Linked DNA regions of Homo sapiens. The protein of the gene in region 2 purifies or fractionates together with the protein of the main gene of each other region. This does not show direct contact. Each region holds a gene or a part of one and is shown on either strand. Other genes may lie near its edges. The genes, in order: HECTD1 and ZNF215.

Evidence for each region.
Region 1: the proteins of ZNF215 (region 2) and HECTD1 purify together in Homo sapiens (co-immunoprecipitation; 2 studies listed by BioGRID and IntAct, with this or other methods). This does not show direct contact.

Annotation. Positions count from the first base shown.
Region 1 is NC_000014.9:31,206,380-31,210,288, reverse strand, and holds the start of HECTD1 (E3 ubiquitin-protein ligase HECTD1), read left to right. Parts: upstream 1-2,495; 5' UTR 2,496-3,273; intron 3,274-3,909. UniProt on the Homo sapiens protein: E3 ubiquitin-protein ligase which accepts ubiquitin from an E2 ubiquitin-conjugating enzyme in the form of a thioester and then directly transfers the ubiquitin to targeted substrates.
Region 2 is NC_000011.10:6,950,324-6,954,232, reverse strand, and holds part of ZNF215 (zinc finger protein 215), read right to left. Parts: intron 1-3,909. UniProt on the Homo sapiens protein: May be involved in transcriptional regulation.

The DNA.
Region 1 (3,909 bases), on a different chromosome or scaffold from region 2:
GGGAGGCCAAGGCGGACGGATCACAAGGTCAGGAGATCGAGACCATCCTGGCTAACATGGTGAAACCCCATCTCCACTAAAAAATACAAAAAATTAGCCAGGCGTGGTGGTGGGTGCCAGTACCTGTAGTCCCAGCTACTCGGGAGGCTGAGGCAGCAGAATGGCATGAACCCGGGATGCAGAGCTTGCAGTGAGCCGAGATTATGCCACTGCACTCCAGCCTGGGCAACAGAACGAGACTCCGTCTCAAAAAAAAAAAAAAAAAAACAACAAAAAACTTGGTAAAGGTATAATCCCTTTTTCTAACTTTTCTATTTTTTGTTAATAGCATCACCATTTTCCTAGCTTCCAAGTCCTCTTTCTACGTTAAGGGTTTTTGTTTTTTGTTTTGGCAGGGTCTTGCTCTATTGCCCAGGCTGTAGTGCAGTGGCATGATCATGGCTCACTGCAGCTTCGACCTCGAGGGCTCAGGTGATCCTCCTGCCTTTGACTCCTGAGTAGCTGGGACTACAGGTGTGCACCACCACACCCAGCTAATTTTAAAAATTATTTGTAGAGACAGGGTCTCCCTATGTTGCCTAGGCTGGTCTCCTACTCCTGGGCTCAAGTGATCCCCCTGCCTCTGCCTCCCAAAGTGCTGGGATTACGGGTGTGAGCCATGGAGCCTGGACGGAAATTTTTAAGTTAATCATTTAAATTCTGATATATCTTCTTTCAAAAATTATTTTTAGATTTCTTCCCCATTCATATTGCCAATAACTAGACTTTTCTTTCCTCCATTATTGCAGCATTTCGACAACCTCCAGCTAGTCTCGTCTAGATAGATCCTTTTAGTCGTTCTAGACACTTTCCATAATTAGTCTTCTTAAGACTAGTTTTTCCAGTGTTGTAGTCCAGAACTTGCTACTTAGCTCAGCCTAATTTCTGCATTCCTCATTCAAGGCCTTCCCCACTTTAGCTCCAAATTTCTCTCTCTGTTGCTTACTGTTGGTTCTTTGCTGGGGGCACAGGTGACCTTTCCTATGTCTAGGAACATATCAGGCTTTATGTTCTTCCCTTTCCTTTCAGTGTCTACATTGTACCCATTCTTCAAGGTCCAGAGGGAATGCCACTTCCTTCTTGAAGTTTCCTGGCAGCTCCAATTCACACTCATGACATCTAAATAATTATCCTCATGTGTTGTACTTGGGACAAAATAGTTGAATCCTCTTTTTCCTCTTGTTTCGTTAACAGGATACCTAAACGGACCATTACCTGCGACAACGGGACATGCGCGGATAGCTATCTGAAGTACAAATTTGTCATTTCCAAAATACTGGTTCTTTTTCTAAAGAAGTAGTAAAAAAGAAAGAAAAAAAAGAACCAGTATTTTGGAAATGACAAATTTGCTTAGTCGCCCAGGCTGGAGTGAGGTGGCATTATCAAAGCTCACTGCAGCCTCAATTTCTTGGGCTCGAGGGATCATCCCATCTCAACCGCTCCAGTAGCTGGGACCATAGGTGTGCGTCACCGCATCTGGGTAATTATTTTTTAAATTTTAATTTTTTTGCAGAGACCAGGTCTATGTTGCTCAGGCTGGTCTCGAACTCCGGGCCTCAAGAGAGTAAAATCATAAAGTGCTGGGATTACAGGAAACGCAGCGGACCCAAATTCTGTTCTTTACTCATACCTAGCAGCTCCTCTGGTTGCCTGAGGGACCATGTCTCAAACACTATCATGTCGTATTAATTTTTCTTTTTGTTTAAAAGCTGAAAGTGAGAGTACAGTAGGACGTCTCCGGGCTCCAACTACGTCCTATAAGCATGCATCCTTTATTCTGAATGCGTGTGAAATAAAGTTTGAAAAGAATAACCACAGACATACTTGTGACCACAAGCCACAAGAAACGTAGTCAAAAGTGCACTCTCAGTGCTGCTGCCGACCGGGCACGGCGCTGGGCCTGCATTTGCGCTTTCCTGGAGCCTCAGTGTCTCATCTGTACAACGTTGATAATCGTCGGCAGCACCTCTTTCCCAGGGTTGCTCTGAAGGGTTTTCTTTGGGGTGAACCGCCAGGCGGTCGGCCTCCCAGGAGCGGGGGGAGACGCCTTCCTTACGCGACGCACTTCCGTGCGCGAGGAGGGAAGATCGTGGCTGAGTGCGGGTGGCCTGGGCGGAAGGCTCAGCGGGGACAGGTTGGGCCGCAGCTTTGCTGTGCTGTGCCGTGCGACGCCCTCCGCAGGAGCGCGCAAAGTGTTAGCCACGGCGCCAAGCAAGCTGGACGTGCGTGCATGAGCGCGCTCGGACTGACAGGGAAGCGAAAAGGGGGCCAGGGCGCACCATAGAAAAGCCGCGGCAGAAACGTACGACACAGCCCGAGGCGGCGGGGGCGAGAGCTCCGGGGCAGGGACGGCGACGCGGCGTACCCGGTTTGGCGCCCCTGCGCGGCGGTCGGCCGTCCCGCAGCGCCCCAGGTGGCCGCCGGCGGGGTCGCCGCCGGGGGAGTGGATTTGCTCCGCCTCCGCCGGGCTCGGCTGCCCTCGGCAGCTTCCCCGCCTGGCTCTCCCTCGACCCTCCTCCCCTCCCCCTCCCGGTTCGCGATGGACTGGGCCTCCCCGCCGCGCCGCCGCCGCCGTCGCCCGCAGCACCGCGCGGGCCTCTGAGTTGCAGGGCCTGAGGAGCCGCGTGCTGGGGACTGGACGTCCGCTGGCTGCTGCCGCACGCGAGAACCTCTCGCTTCCCTGTCACCAGGTCCTCGCGGAGGAAGGGGAGGGACGAGGCGCGGCTTTTCCTGTGCCGCCTGCCCGGTTCGACCTGCGCGGCCTGCGGCTTCTTGGGAACTCTAGGGCCGCGGCCGGGCCTGGCTCTGCCGGCGGCCTGTTGGGAGCTGGATCGGAGCGGTTTGGAACGACAAGCCCGAGTAAGAGCCTGCGGGAAGGGGAGGCGGGAGCGCCTCGGACCGTCGGAAGGGCCCTGCGTGGGGGCGCGGATCCCGGACGCCCGGCGAGTGGCGGAAAGCGAGACCCCGGCGCCGAGTGAGGTCGGCCAGGCTGCTGCCGACTTCCCCGCTGGCCCCTTTGTTCCCCTCCCGGGGCCCTGCCGGCGGCGGGGCCCGGTTGCCCGCGCCAGAGCCTCAGGCCGGCTCCTTTTGCCCTTGAGAAGGGTTCGCTGCCAGGCCTTCGAGTTCCGGGCGCAGCTCCCGGGAGAGCCGGCGCCCTGCCTGGCCCGGCGGCCTCCTCTCGGGCACGAAGGCTTGCTGCTGCTTCTCCAGAACTTCCCTTCCTCGTAGACACAGGTAGTTAACTTAGCGGGGTTTGGTGCTGGGGAACCACAGCGCGGGGGCCAGCGCCTCTCAGCGCCCGGCTCGGCCGGGCCCCGGGTGTGGGGTCAACCCCGCTGGTCGCCGCCGTTGGGTGCCCACCGCGCCCCGCCGCCGGCTTCCCACACTTGCGGCTGCGTTACGTGGGACCCAAAGCTGTCCTCCAGTCAGGGCGCTTACGGGGCGCTTTTGTAATGACTTACCTGTTGGGGTTGCTTCTCGGTTTTGTTTTTGTTTTTTTAACCAACTGCCCTATCTTGTGAAGCTGGGGAAAGAGGGCCCTAGGTTGGCCTACATTCGTTCGGATCCGTAACCTGCTGGTCCATTGCATTTACTTTTAGCCTTTCCTTTTTTAATTTTTTTATTTTTTTAACTTTTAAGAATAGTTGCCAAGACTGCCAAAATTCCTAACCAACTCTTTATTCATAGATAAATCTTGTATATAATTGTCGTTTGTATTTGGATATCTTTAAAATAGAAGTAAATTGAGAAGTCAGCAGAATATGTGAAATTGGAGGTAATTTTGAAGGAGAAACAATTTGGAGGGGGATTGGATCAAGGTGTTTAGAGTTTCCTCAAAATACTGAATCTAACCCTTATCTGAAGATCAGT
Region 2 (3,909 bases):
CTGGAGATCTGAGAACGGGCAGACTGCCTCCTCAAGTGGGTCCCTGAACCCTGACCCCCGAGCAGCCTAACTGGCAGGCACTCCCCAGTAGGGGCAGACTGACATCTCACACGGCCGGGTATTCCTCTGAGACAAAACTTCCAGAGAAACGATCAGACAGCAGCATTCTGGTTCACAAAAATCCGCTGTTCTGCAGCCACCATTGCTGGTACCCAGGCAAACAGGGTCTGGAGTGGACCTCTAGCAAACTCCAACAGACCTGCAGCTGAGGGTCCTGTCTGTTAGAAGGAAAACTAACAAACAGAAAGGACATCCACACCAAAAACCCATCTGTACATCACCATCATCAAAGACTAAAAGTAGATAAAACCACCAAGATGGGGAAAAAACAGAGCAGAAAAACTGGAAACTCTAAAGAGCAGAGTGCCTCTCCTCCTCCAAAGGAACGCAGTTCCTCACAAGCAACGGAACAAAGCCGGACGGAGAATGACTTTGACGAGTTGAGAGAAGAAGGCTTCAGATGATCAAACTACTTCAAGCTACAGGAGGAAATTCAAACCAAAGGCAAAGAAGGTGAAAACTTTGAAAAAATTTTAGACAAATGTATAACTAGAATAACCAATACAGAGAAGTGCTTAGAGTAGCTGATGGAGCTGAAAACCAAGGCTCGAGAACTATGTGAAGAATGCAGAAGCCTCAGGAGCTGATGCGATCAACTGGAAGAAAGGGTATCAGTGATGGAAGATGAAATGAATGAAATGAAGCAAGAAAGGAGGTTTAGAGAAAAAAGAATAAAAAGAAACAAACAAAGCCTCCAAGAAATATGGGACTATGTGAAGAGACCAAATCTACGTCTGATTGGTGTATCTGAAAGTGACGGGGAAAATGGAACCAAGTTAGAAAACACTCTGCAAGACATTTTCCAGGAGAACTTTCCCAATCTAGCAAGGCAGGCCAACATTCAGATTCAGGAAATACAGAGAATGCCACAAACATACTCCTTGAGAAGAGCAACTCCAAGACATACAATTGTCAGATTCACCAAAGTTGAAATGAAGGAAAAAATGTTAAGGGCAGCCAGAGAGAAAGGTCGGGTTACCCACAAAGGGAAGCCCATCAGACTAACAGCGGATCTCTTGGCAGAAACTCTACAAGCCAGAAGAGAGTGGGGGCCAATATTCAACATTCTTAAACAAAAGAATTTTCAAACCAGAATTTCATATCCAGCCAAACTAAGCTTCATACGTGAAGGAGAAATAAAATACTTCACAGACAAGCAAATGCTGAGAGATTTTGTCACCACCAGGCCTGCCCTAAAAGAGCTCCTGAAGGAAGCACTAAACATGGAAAGGAACAACCGGTACCAGCCACTGCAAAATCATGCCAAATTGTAAAGACCATCGAGGCTACGAAGAAACTGCATCAACTAACCAGCAAAATAACCAGCTAACATCATAATGATAGGATCAAACTCACACATAACAATATTAACTTTACATGTAAATGGACTAAATGCTCCAATTAAAAGACACGGACTGGCAAATTGGATAAAGAGTCAAGACCCATCAGTGTGCTGTATTCAGGAAACCCATCTCATGTGCAGAGACACACATAGGCTCAAAATAAAAGGATGGAGGAAGATCTACCGAGCAAATGGAAAACAAAAAAAGGTAGGGGTTGCAATCCTAGTCTCTGATAAAACAGACTTTAAACCAACAAAGATCAAAAGAGACAAAGAAGGCCATTACATAATGGTAAAAGGATCAATTCAACAAGAAGAGCTAACTATCCTAAATATATATGCACCCAATACAGGAGCACCCAGATTCATAAAGCAAGTCCTGAGTGACCTACAAAGAGACTTAGACTCCCACACAATAATAATGGGAGACTTCAACACCCTACTGTCAACATTAGATAGATCAACAAGACAGAAAATTAACAAGGATACCCAGGAATTGAACTCAGCTCTGCACCAAGCAGACCTAATAGACATCTACAGAACTCTCCAGCCCAAATCAACAGAATGTACATTTTTTTCAGCACCACACCACACCTATTCCAAAACTGACCACATACTTGGAAGTAAAGCTCTCCTCAGCAAATGTAAAAGAATAGAAATTATAACAAACTGTCCCTCAGACCACAGTGCAATCAAACTAGAACTCAGGGTTAAGAAACTCACTCAAAACCACTCAACTACATGGAAACTAAACAACCTGCTCCTGAATGACTACTGGGTGCATAACGAAATGAAGGCAGAAATAAAGATGTTCTTTGAAACCAGTGAGAACAAAGACACAACATACCAGAATCTCTGGGACACATTCAAAGCAGTGTGTAGAGGGAAATTTATAGCACTAAATGCCCACAAGAGAAAGCAGGAAAGATCCAAAATTGACACCCTAACATCACAATTAAAAGAACTAGAAAAGCAAGAGCAAATGCATTCAAAAGCTAGCAGAAGGCAAGAAATAACTAAAATCAGAGCAGAACTGAAGGAAATAGAGACACAAAAAACCCTTCAAAAAATTAATGAATCCAGGAGCTGGTTTTTTGAAAGGATCAACAAAATTGATAGATCACTAGCAAGACTAATACAGAAGAAAACAGAGAAGACTCTGATAGACTCAATAAAAAATGATAAAGGAGATATCACCACCGATCCCACAGAAATACAAACTACCATCAGAGAATACTACAAACACCTCTATGCAAATAAACTAGAAAATCTAGAAGAAATGGATAAATTCCTCGACACATACACCCTCCCAAGACTAAACAAGGAAGAAGCTGAATCTCTGAACAGACCAATAACAGGCTCTGAAATTATGGCAACAATCAATAGCTTACCAACCAAAAAGAGTCCAGGACCAGATGGATTCACAGCCGAATTCTACCAGAGGTACAAGGAGGAACTGGTACCATTCCTTCTGAAACTATTCCAATCAATAGAAAAAGAGGGAATCCTCCCTAACTCATTTTATGAGGCCAGCATCATCCTGATACCAAAGCCTGGCAGAGACACAACAAAAAAAGAGAATTTTAGACCAATATCCTTGATGAACATTGATGCAAAAATCCTCAATAAAATACTGGCAAAGCAAATCCAGCAGCACATGAAAAAGCTTATCCACCATGATCAAGTGGGCTTCATCCCTGGTATGCAAGGCTGGTTCAATATACGCAAATCAATAAATGTAATCCAGCATATAAACAGAACCAAAGACAAAAACCACATGATTATCTCAATAGATGCAGAAAAGGCCTTGGACAAAATTCAACAACCCTTCATGCTAAAAACTCTCAATAAATTAGGTATTGATGGGACGTATCTCAAAATAATAAGAGCTATTTATGACAAACCCACAGCCAATATCATACTGAATGGACAAAAACTGGAAGCATTGCCTTTGAAAATTGGCACAAGACAGGGATGCCCTCTCTCACCACTCCTATTCAACATAGTGTTGGAAGTTCTGGCCAGGGCAATCAGGCAGGAGAAGGAAATAAAGGGTATTCAATTAGGAAAAGAGGAAGTCAAATTGTCCCTGTTTGCAGATGACATGATTGTATATCTAGAAAACCCCATCGTCTCAGCCCAAAATCTCCTTAAGCTGATAAGCAACTTCAGCAAAGTCTCAGGATACAAAATCAATGTACAAAAATCACAAGCATTCTTATACACCAATAACAGACAAACAGAGAACCAAATCATGAGTGAACTCCCATTCACAATTGCTTCAAAGAGAATAAAATACCTAGGAATCCACTTTACAAGGGACGTGAAGGACCTCTTCAAGGAGAACTACAAACCACTGCTCAATGAAATTAAAGAGGATACAAACAAATGGAAGAACATTCCATGCTCATGGGTAGGAAGAATCAATATCGTGAAAATGGCCATAC